Linked DNA regions of Homo sapiens: region 2 is linked to region 1. The links come from fine-mapping of genetic effects on gene expression. A gene starts in region 1. The other region holds a variant in brackets. All regions are shown on one strand. Distances are from middle to middle.

Region 1 (5,387 bases):
AAAAAAAAAAAAAATTAGCCGGGTGTGGTGGTGTGCGCCTGTAATTCCAGCTACTAGGGAGGCTGAGGTGGGAGAATTGCTTGAACCCAGGAGGCAGAGGTTGCAGTGAGCCAAGATCGCACCACTGCACTTCAGCCTGGGCAATAGGGCGAGACTTCTTCTCAAAAAAAAAAAGAAAGAAAGAAAGAAAGAAAGAAAGAAAGAAACTTGACTGTCATAGTTCATGCCACATGCTATTTTGCTGAGCCAAAAGGGAGTTCCTGGCTGTGTCTGAGTTTTTGTGCCTGCAATGGACTCTTCAAAGCTGGAAGGCTGACCATAGAAATGGTGTGCTTACAGGAGCTTTCATGATTACAGGTAAGAAAAACTGTTTATAGAAAATGAAATCATTCAGAAGTTCTCAGTGTTTATATGTAACTCACCTATGTAAGTTGCCTTAGAATTTACCTCTTTTCTGTAAAGAAAACGTCTTTGTCTGATTTTGTGGTTACAGACAATGTTTTATTTCAAGTTTCCCAAAGGAGGGGAAGGAGTGAGAGTTAGACAAGAACAGAGGGGAAAAATAAAGACAAAGCAATACTCTGTAAAACTGATTACTCAAATACATTTTTGACAAACAGGTGTAATATCTGGTTGCTGTTGCCATTCTGCCACCAAGAAACCTGATGACTTCATTTGGGCCTCTTCAACCAGCTGCCCCTAAAGCTAGCAAGCTCCACCCTTCAGTGTCCACTGATAAATTCCTTAATAGCGTAAGTGATTTTAGGAAATTTTTGAAAATTGTGTATGAATGGATGGATTCCATGACAAGGGTATTGAGGTCAAATGGTATGTGGCTAGGTACTGCCAGGCAAGTCTAAGAGATTAAATTTAATTATTTTGGGGGACTCAAGTATTGAGGAAATGACTATGTAGCTGGTTAGGAAAAAATAATTTAGAAGGTCCTGTTTTCAGGTACACTGAATGACTACATTCCTTTCCAGGCCTTTCTTGCATCTGCTAGTTGTCAGAGGAAGCCTGTGGTTGTCACTGAAGGAGCCCATTTGTCATAGATAGTTCCTGTTGAGTCTCTTAGTCCACTTAATTTTCAATGAGCTGCACCCAGGAGAGACTTCCCACAAAACTAGGTTAGGCTGATTCTGTCAGGTGGAAATTTTTTAATGGTAAATGGCAGAAAACCCAATCTAAAATCACTTAAGCTATTAAGGAATTTATTAGTGTACACTGAAGGGTAGGTCTTGCTAGCATTAGGGGCAGGTGGTTTAAGGGGCCCAAATGAAGTCAACAGTTTTCTTGGTGGCAAGAGGGCAATAGCAGCCAGACCTTACACCTTCTTATCATCAAGTCCAGCAGCTTAGACTTTTTACTCCCAAAGCTGAGCTTTCATCATTGTCCTCTCATTGGCCTAGAAGGGGTCGCACACCTGCCCTGCATTAGTCACTATGATCACAGGAATGCAATTACTCTAATTTGGGTAAGACCAATTAAGGCCCATCCTGTTTATGGGCATCAGCTGTACCCAAAGGACATGGTTTCCCAAGGGAAATTTGGGTGCAGTTTTGACTAAAAGTAGAGTAAGTGAATGTTGAGTGTCAAACACAAGAGAAAGTAATCTTCACCCCATGAGTAGTCCTTTTAATTGGACTAGTAATTTTTTTACATGCAGCATGATTGCCACTGAATGGAAATATTTTTATTTCCACTTGTACATCTTACACCTGACTTTCCCCACTGCAGCCCCCGCCCCCACCCTCCCTGTTACCCTCACATGGTTTGACTGAAAGTTCCGGTCGGGAGAGACTCAGAAATGTTTTATCACTTTATGTGAAGGCAAAACCTCAGATCAATAAGGGAAGAAAGCCCATGCCATACACTTAAAGGGAGAGAAGAGCCTCTAGATATAATAATCCACTGGGCACCACCAATTAATTTATGCATTAGAGGTTTTAAAGTGCATTCTCCTTAAAAGAGAGAGAGAGATGAGGCGATGTGGGAGTGCTTGTGAGGGATCCCCAATGAATTAGGTTTGAAAAGATGAGTTCTATATTTGGATGGTAAAAGGAAGGAGTTAGAAATTTGAGTGGATGCAAGAAGGAACCATGAGGGTTCAGAAAAATCTCTAGTGCTACCAGGGAAGTTTCATTAAGTTGTTGTGTGTTTCGTAAGCAATACCAATAGTATAATTAGACTTTTGCTCCTTTACCCTAGCTATTTTGCTTCTCTTGTGGTATTTTTCTTCTATCATATTTGGCTTAAATACCATTTCATTCCAGTGCTTCCCTTCCTGCATTCCCTCCCCAAGCCTTTTTCCTGATGCCTGCTAAAAGGCCCCACATCTGATATTAACCTAAAACTTCCTTGATTTCTTAAAGTGAGTTATTCATTAACAGAACCTAAATTACTGGTTGTTAGGCAAATCTAATTCTTTCAAACTACAGATCTGCTCAGAGAAATCTGTAAATCTAGTGTAGAAATAAGTGAAGCTTTGCGTCAATTGTTAGGTCTAAGCAGAAGTTTGGGAGAGAGAAGAAAAGTTACTCATTTGCCTGATTCCGCACGGTGAGTCAATGGGGAGGGAATGAAATGTACCACTGGCTTGACAGGCAGCTCAGGGAGACGCGGCTGCAGCCCACAGGACTGGGCAGCAGCTGCAAGGCTGCCTCTGAGCATGGTCATGGGTCCCAGCTGCAGTGCTCTAAAGATCAAGGATTTTGCCTTCTATTTTCTATGACCAGAGATTCCTGTGCAAAGAGGTATGGCTATCTTCTTTCATGACCTTTTGTTCAGCAAAAACAAAAGCTAATTAAAGTAAATGTCAGAGGCTGCAAAGAAGCAAAGAGTGGGGGATAGGAGAATGGAGCTGAGAAACTTCCAGGGGCTGGCTGATTATGCAGATAAAGCACATTTGGGAGCTGTGTGTCTAGCCATGTATGCAGGCATTTCGGTTATTAGAGTAAAAATGCCACTTCTCTGTGGGTTATTAAAACATGTCTCTAGGCCTCAGGAGCAGAAAGCTGTGCTTCTAGATTCATATCATGTGCATTTTTGTTTTACTCCGTAATAATCTAGTCTCATTTCTATTTTATACTTTTGTTTACTTCAATCAACATTTTGCAACCAGCAAAGAAACTGGCTCTGCCTACGGATTTTCAAAGAAAATTAAATATTATAGCATCATTACAGTCAGTGGGTTGAACAGGGTCACCATTACTGTTTGTTGCTGCTGCCGTTTTTTCCTTTGGTGTTTCAGATATCTTACAAATCATAATTAAATCTAACCACTTTTTTACTCTTTCAGATACACACTTAAATTGTTGTAGTAATCAACCATTGGATTAAATGACATTTATATATTTTTGATTTAAAAAGCAGAAAAAAATATTTAGAGAAATATTTGAGTTGGTCATATAGATATTTGGTACATGAAACTTAAATGTAAATGAAGATACATTTAACATTGAGTTTTCCATGTAGTTTGAGAGTTTTGGTACATTTTCTGGAAGAACAAACCCACGAATTTGAATTAGGATTTTTCAGCAAGATTTGTATTATTCCAGAGCAAAAATGACCAACAAAGTCAACATTTACAGGTGAAAATGAATACACTATAAAATTATGACAAGTCACAAAAGCCTTGATTTTAGAAAGTTTATTAGACTTGAAGATAAGTGTTTCTCATCCTTTTTGAAGGAAATGTTTCCTATTTGTGTTTTAATAAGTTGAAATAGGTAATCAAAATTAAGTAGTTTTTTGGGCTCTTGACTAAATAGGTCACCAAATCTATTTTTTTCATGTACTTATGAAATAAGCCTGCTACAAACTTAGATCGTATGTACTCTAGCAAAAAGACAGGGCTGAAGCCTTTAGCATTGCTTAGAATAAGCCAGACTCAGAGGCTTTCAGTAGAAGTGAAGTGTAGCAGCACGCCACAGCCAAGGAAGCCCAGAGACATCCAGGGAACAATAGACATCTTGTGGGAAGGGCTGAAATGTATGCAGCCAATTCCCATGGGAACGCCTGTAGTCCTTTCACGCTGTGTGAAAAAGATGCTCCTTCAAAAGAATCTGTAATCCTTTCTTTCAAGGGAAAAATCTGAGAACTTTATTGAAAGTTTCTAGAGCCCAAATGGGTCTAAGTTTGTTAATGAGCATTTTTAATACAGGTGAATAAAATGAAAATGTTTTGATGCAGAGTAATGTAGTCTAAAGCGTAATGTAAATAAATATTGTCATTCTAGAATTTTCTGAAGTGAGGAAGCCAGGGTATACCCTAACCTAAGTTGCAAGCTAGAGGCTGAATTCTTCAGAATAAGTTGGTTTCTTGAGTTAATTATGGTGATTGAAATCTCCCCCAAGAGTTTCAATTATTCTATAGGCAGTATCCCAATAGTGTGGCGATTAAGTCCTCCAGTTCATGTATATTTTCATTTAGCAGAATCTACAGATGCATAATAGAGTAAGCCACTAATGTTTTATTAGTGGGCATTGAGTGTACGTCACCTTGAAAAGTAGTAAAGAAAGTAGCTGGAGCCCTGGAGGGCCACTCCTTTCTCACTAATAAACACGGGAAGGAGTGCTACACTTCCATGGAAAACTCAGGTGTTTGGATTACCCAGCCACAAAAAGTTTGAGATACATTGTATTCTAGCCCATTTCTGCTCTGTAAAAACATTCACTGTTATTGTTCAACCTTGGTGTGGGTAGGATCACCGTAAAACTATCTCTCCAGGAAACAAGATAAGGTTGCCAAAAAATCAACAGGGACCCATTCAAGAGAATGAAGTTTACAGATGAAAAGTGAACAACCCAGAGGTAAGGACAGGATGACTAAGATAGAGAAAGGACAACAAAGATATAAATATGGCTCAAATGGAAACAACCTAAACATCTTTAGCTCTGTGAACCCAATTTAGTGAACAGTACAGTCATGTATTAATTTTTAAAAGGTATGGCATGGGGATGTGTTAACTGGTGGACCATCTATAGGAATAATAGTACTCTTAAGGATATGATTGCTGGCACTTTTTCTGTGGTTGCCATATGCCAGGCTCTGTGTTAAATGTTTTATATCATCTCCTTAAACCTCCCAACAACCCATATCACAATCCTCAGGAGCAAAGGAGGAATTCCAGGCTCAGGGAGTCTAATTAACCTGCCCACATTTACACTGCAGGTAATGGCATAGCTGAGCTTGGAATCCAGTTGAGTCTAGATTCCCATACTCTTATCACTCTGCTCTTCTTACTGGAGTTCCATAGAGTGTCCAATTCAGGACTCTACACCCTTTAAAAAAATAAAACTGGATAAAAATCTAGGGATTAAAAATCAGTAATAATGAATAGAGGATTAAAAGGGAAGGCTAAAGCAATATCATCTATTCCATTAAAA
Region 2 (5,387 bases), 24 kb before region 1:
TTATCACTGTTTTACAAGCATTTTCTATGAGGCCACTGATGACCTCTCTTTAGGCCTTATTTTTCTTAACCCCTCTGAAAAGTTTCAAATGGCTGACCATCCTCCCATTTTCTTGATACTCTCTCCACCTCCTATCCGTATGATTCTGCCCCTCTGAGTGTTTTCTTGTTGCCTTTTTTTTTTTTTTTAAGCACTGGTTTTGTCTTGCCCCTTCCAATCCATTCTCCATGTGTGGTCAGAGCATTCTATCTAAAATAAAAATCTGATCATGTCATTCCTCTGCTTAAACCATGCAAGCTTCCAGTTTAGGATCCACCCCGAATCTATAATATGGCTCATGAGGCTTTGTCCATCTCTTTAGCCTCCCTCCTCATCACTTCCCATTCACTCAACTCTTCTCAGTCTGTTTCCTCTGATTAAACACTCTTCCTGTACCTTCCAGCTATGCCCTCATCCCTCATTGTCCCCTTTGACAGGCAAAGTCCTGCTGCTTTTGCATGTTCAGTTTAGCTATCACTTCCTTCTGGAAGCCTCATCTGATCTCTTCCATTCATGGGTTGGCTGTCTCTACTATGCGCATGTGCTCCTGAGCCATCCTTTCTCTTTCCTTCTATAGATATAACCATATCATTTATGAGAGAGATATATATTCTCTCAATAGCTAGCTAGCTAGCTAGCTAGCTAGATATCTCTTTTTTCATCTCTGACTCCCACCCCATTCTGTGCACTCCATGACAAAAAGGCTTTGATTGGTTAGGTCAACACAGAACCCAGAAATGACACATGGCAGAGACTTAATTATCAGGACAATGAATTAATTTGGTTATACAATCCAAATAATAACTAATAGTAACAAAAATTAACTAACATTTCCATAGTGCTTTCTATGTGTGAGTCATGGTTCTAAGTACTTGAGTACTAAATATTGTAATAATTCATTTAATTCTTCTAACATTCACAAATAGTAGATCTTATCAGGTTTATATTTTTATAGAAGAGTAAACTGAAAAATAATAGGATAATGTTTTAGACCAAGGGTAAACAAATCACTGCTCTTGGGCCAAATTCAGCCAGTTGCCTGATTTTATAAATAAAGTTTTATTGATAGATAGCCATGCTCATTCGTTTATGGCGTCTTCTGTGGCTGCTTTCCCACTATAATGGAAAAGTTGAATAGGTATGACAGAGACTATATGATTCACATAGACTAAAATATTTACTATCTGGTCCCTTATAGGTTCATACAGAGTATCTGCCCCAAAAGTCTGCATTTGAAGCATGCTGAAAAATCATGTTTATTTATGTCATCTTTTTGTTTCTATCCTGAGAAGACAATCCCACTACTCTCAAACCCCCCTTTTAATTTTGATTTTCTATTTTATTATTATTGTGTTGTGGTAGTATATTAAAGCAAAATCCATCTGTCTATAATGTAAAATAATTTTCCTTGGTAGAGTTTTTTTTTTTAACCATGACCTGACTATTTATACCTTATAGAATTTAGAAGTTGAAAGTGCCCATGGCCTCACTCATCTTTTTAAAAAACAAATTTGGCAAATGAGATCTGGAGATCGTGATTTATTTGCTAGGAGTCATGTGATCAGTCATGTAGGTTCTGGATAACAGCCCAATTCCCCTGACCTTCTGAAGAAGGCCCTGGTGGCCCAGCTCTCTGCCTCCTCGTTGGCAGGGGTCCTGAGCACCCTCTCTGGCTGAGACAGCAAGGTCAGATGATTTGTTTTTCAAATACATACAGCCAATTCCTAAGCTCTCAACAAAAACAGGACCCAGAGAGTCTAGCTAAGTTATTGCTATTATCTTTCTGTTTGACCTTGTCTAGACTTCCACCCTGGCTTCTTTGTTTATCTCATTTATGCATGGGGCGTGTGTGTGTGTGTGTGTGTGTGTGTGTGTGTGTGTGTGTGTGTGTGTGTTTGTGTGTGCATGTGTGTGGAGTCTCCAGTTTTCATGACCAAACCTTAAGCAAATGAGAAAAATGCCTTAGGGTCTAACTAGAATGAATGCTACTCTAATAAATATTAGTTTTGATATCATCTGAGCCCCAGGATACGGAATATGAAATTTCCAAATGGTTATTATTCAAATCAATCAGTAAAGAGTACATCAGAGCCTCAGTGGAGCTGCACAGCTCAATTAGCACACATGGCATCTACTCAGCATTTCCTGGATGCAGCTCACATCACCCAGGACCCTGTGTGAGCAACACTGTGGTTAAGGATATGTCACAGCAAATCAACAAAATATGCAGTTTGATCAGCACATTCTGAGAGCAGATCATTAAAATATGCAACCAGATCCCCCAAGTGCATGAAAAATTAACTAACGAGTTTTGTATCTTGATCAGTTTAATGAGTGAGAAGTCGCTGAACAAGAGTGTCAAATTGTACAGTCTGGCAAGGGGGCAGACAATCGTCAGAGAGCAGCTGGGAGGGCCAAAGCTAATACTTTTTGTTTTCAAAATACCAAGCCTTAGAATTCAATGTCAGAAAAAGCTGATTAGTATTAAGATATTGTCCAGCTTGTGTCCAGCAGGATGTGATGTGATGTAGAGCCTTCTGATGTAAATGAAACATTGATTCTGTTTCAGGCTTCACTAAGTCTTAACAGACTCAGCTATGCGCCTGGAAGGCCCTGCCAATGGCATCATATACACATGTGTAGAACTAAGAGGCAGTGGCAGCCTTCTGGAAATATCTAAACCATCCAAGCTTAAAGAGCAACTAAAAGGAAGAGAAAAAACTTATTTAATCAAACTGTGTCAGAGATGCCTCATGCTATTAAGCAGGACTTAATAAACCAAGAATGTCCAAGCTAGAAAGTGGGTGGAGAATTTGAGTCAGTTAAGCCCAAGTGGTTGATGATCACTCGAGATGTGTGAATTGGATTGTCACAGAAGACTGTAGGGCCTGCTGTCACCCTGCTATTGGCAGGATGCTGATGGGGAGGTTGACAACCTACTCTTAACATAGCCACACATGCCCCTAGTGACTTGGCCCATGTGTAAACAGGGACTTGAGCACCAGTCTGTTAATTCTGCTCTGATACTTTATCTTGGTCGACC[G/A]GCTGGCATTGCAGCTGCGGGAATGTTGGTTTCCCAGGGCATAAATTTACCCCCTTTTATAGTGAGCTGGGCAACAGAAAGATGGCAAGCCCAAATAAAAGGCAGAAAGCAAATCCAAATGGGAAACATTCTACAGACAAAGGGGAAGATTGGCAGCCTGGCAAATGCTGAAACCAGAGCTGGCTGCTGGTTGCCCTTCCAGTGAACATGTACTGTTGGAGCAGAGGAGATGGGAAGAGAAGCAGACAGTCGTGTGTGTGTGTGTGTGTGTGTGTGTGTGTGTTTGTGTGTGTGTGTTCCTACTTTTAATTAGACTTTCCTAAAGTGTGGCACATGGACATAGAATGACCTTTGGTCAGATGTGATATGTGGAAAACTTTAAAATATGTTGATAGTTCTGATTCTATTTTCATGAATGTCAGGTAAAATAGAAATAGCACATCAAACTCATGATTTCACTAATATTTCTTAAGGTGAGGTAAGTATAGCAAAAGTGAGCCAAATTAAGACAAACTTAATGAAAAATACTGCATTTTGAAATAAAATATGAAATGAAAAATAAAGAAAAATACTATATATGTAACAGCACATGTGATAATGGATATCTCAAAAATTATAAAGGGATTTTCAAATGGCTTAAAGTTTAGGAAAATTTGGACTAGATTACTTTCTTTAAATAAGAGAGTTTCATGCCATTCAGTCAATGAAACAGGACTTATGAAAAGTAATAGCTTGGAGTGGATAATTTTAAGCAAGAAAGGAGGATTGGAAATAAAAAAAGGATCTCAAAGTTTGTCATTTATCCCATTTTCAATTGTCCAGGGGGCTAAAGAAAACTCTTCAGCCATAAGCCACTCTTGAGGCTGACATATTAATGAGCCATCATGAAACCATAAAAAGTACTTTGGATTACCAAAAAAGTTCAGTTATTAAAAGTTTTAATTAAATTTGTATGAAGAGTTTATTATAGATGATATCATATGTCAAAAGTACACATACTATATATGTGTGTCATACATATACACACACACATTTGTATATTTTAAAAGAATAAAACAAACGCATATGTTCCCTCTAGCCTACTTAAGAAATAGAAAATGACTATTTCAGAGCTGACAATGTGCCCCTCCAATAACAACTCTGTTCCCTTGCATTTCCACGTAACTCCTGTATTGAGTTTAATGCTAATTTTATTTGTCTTTTTAATAATCTTACCACATATGCCTGTGCTGCTAACATATTGCCTAATATACTTAAATATAATATTTTCTGTCCTTGCATTTTATATGAAAAGGATCATTCTATATGGATTCTTCTGTGATTTGCTCTTTTCACTCAACATTATGATTTTAATGTTTATACAAGTTAATATGCATAGATTTAGTTAATTTTATTCCTACGTGCTATTTCAGTGAATCTATCACAATAATTTATCCACTATACTGCTTATGGACATGTGGATTGTTTTTTGTTTTTGAATGTGAATAAGGCTGTTTTTACGGATCTCCTGGTGTTCACGGGCAAGAGCTTCCCTTGGTAGACACCTGGGACTGGCATTGCCAGGGACAGGCACGTGCTTCTTCCGTGTCATAAAGTACTGTCATATAGTTTTCCAGAACAGTCTTATCAATTTGCATTCCCACCATTGACAATAGTAACAAAAATAAGGTACCTAGCAAAAAAATGTACAAAGCCAAATATGAAATAAAATAATTTATTGAAAAACATCAAAGAAGACCTAAATAATTTTGGAATTATGGCAACCTTATGAATGTGAAAATTTAATGTAAAAATGTTAATTCTTCCCAAATTATCTGTACATTTCATACTCTTTCTCTCCTTCTTTCTTTCTTCCCTTCCTTTCCCTTCCCTTTCCTTCCCTTTCCTTTTCTGTCTCACTCTGTCACCCAGGCTGGAGGGCAGTGACATGATCACAGCTCACTGCAGCCCTGTCTCAACCCAGGGTCAGTCAATCCTCCCACCTTAGCCTCCTGAGTAGCTGCCACTACAGGTGCATGCTCCCATACCTGGCTAATTTTTCTATTTTTTTTGTAGAGATGAGGTTTCACAATAATTCCCAGGCTGGTCTTGAAGTCCTGGGCTCAAGCCATCTGCCCACCTCAGCCTCCCAAAGTGATGGTATTACAGGTGTGAGCTGCCACACCTGACCCGTACTATTTAATTTAAATTTAGATAGAGTTTTACATGGAAGTTGCAATCTGATTCTGAAGTTTACATGGAAATGCTAAGGGCCAAGAATCACTGGAATAATTTTGAGAAAGGAAAAATAAGGCAATGTGCTCTA

What was found.
Region 2: its variant is fine-mapped to the expression of VEPH1 in whole blood (TOPMed, PIP above 0.99).

The regions. Positions count from the first base shown.
Region 1 is chr3:157,500,643-157,506,029 of GRCh38, reverse strand. VEPH1 (ventricular zone expressed PH domain containing 1) reads left to right here and starts at 2,614. Exons shown (of 14, transcript NM_001167912.2): 1 at 2,614-2,753. RefSeq lists a silencer at 2,587-2,821.
Region 2 is chr3:157,525,011-157,530,397 of GRCh38, reverse strand. No RefSeq gene overlaps it. Among named protein-coding and RNA genes, the nearest start is that of VEPH1, 24 kb to the right of the region's middle. The variant G/A (reference allele first, on the strand shown) is at 3,083.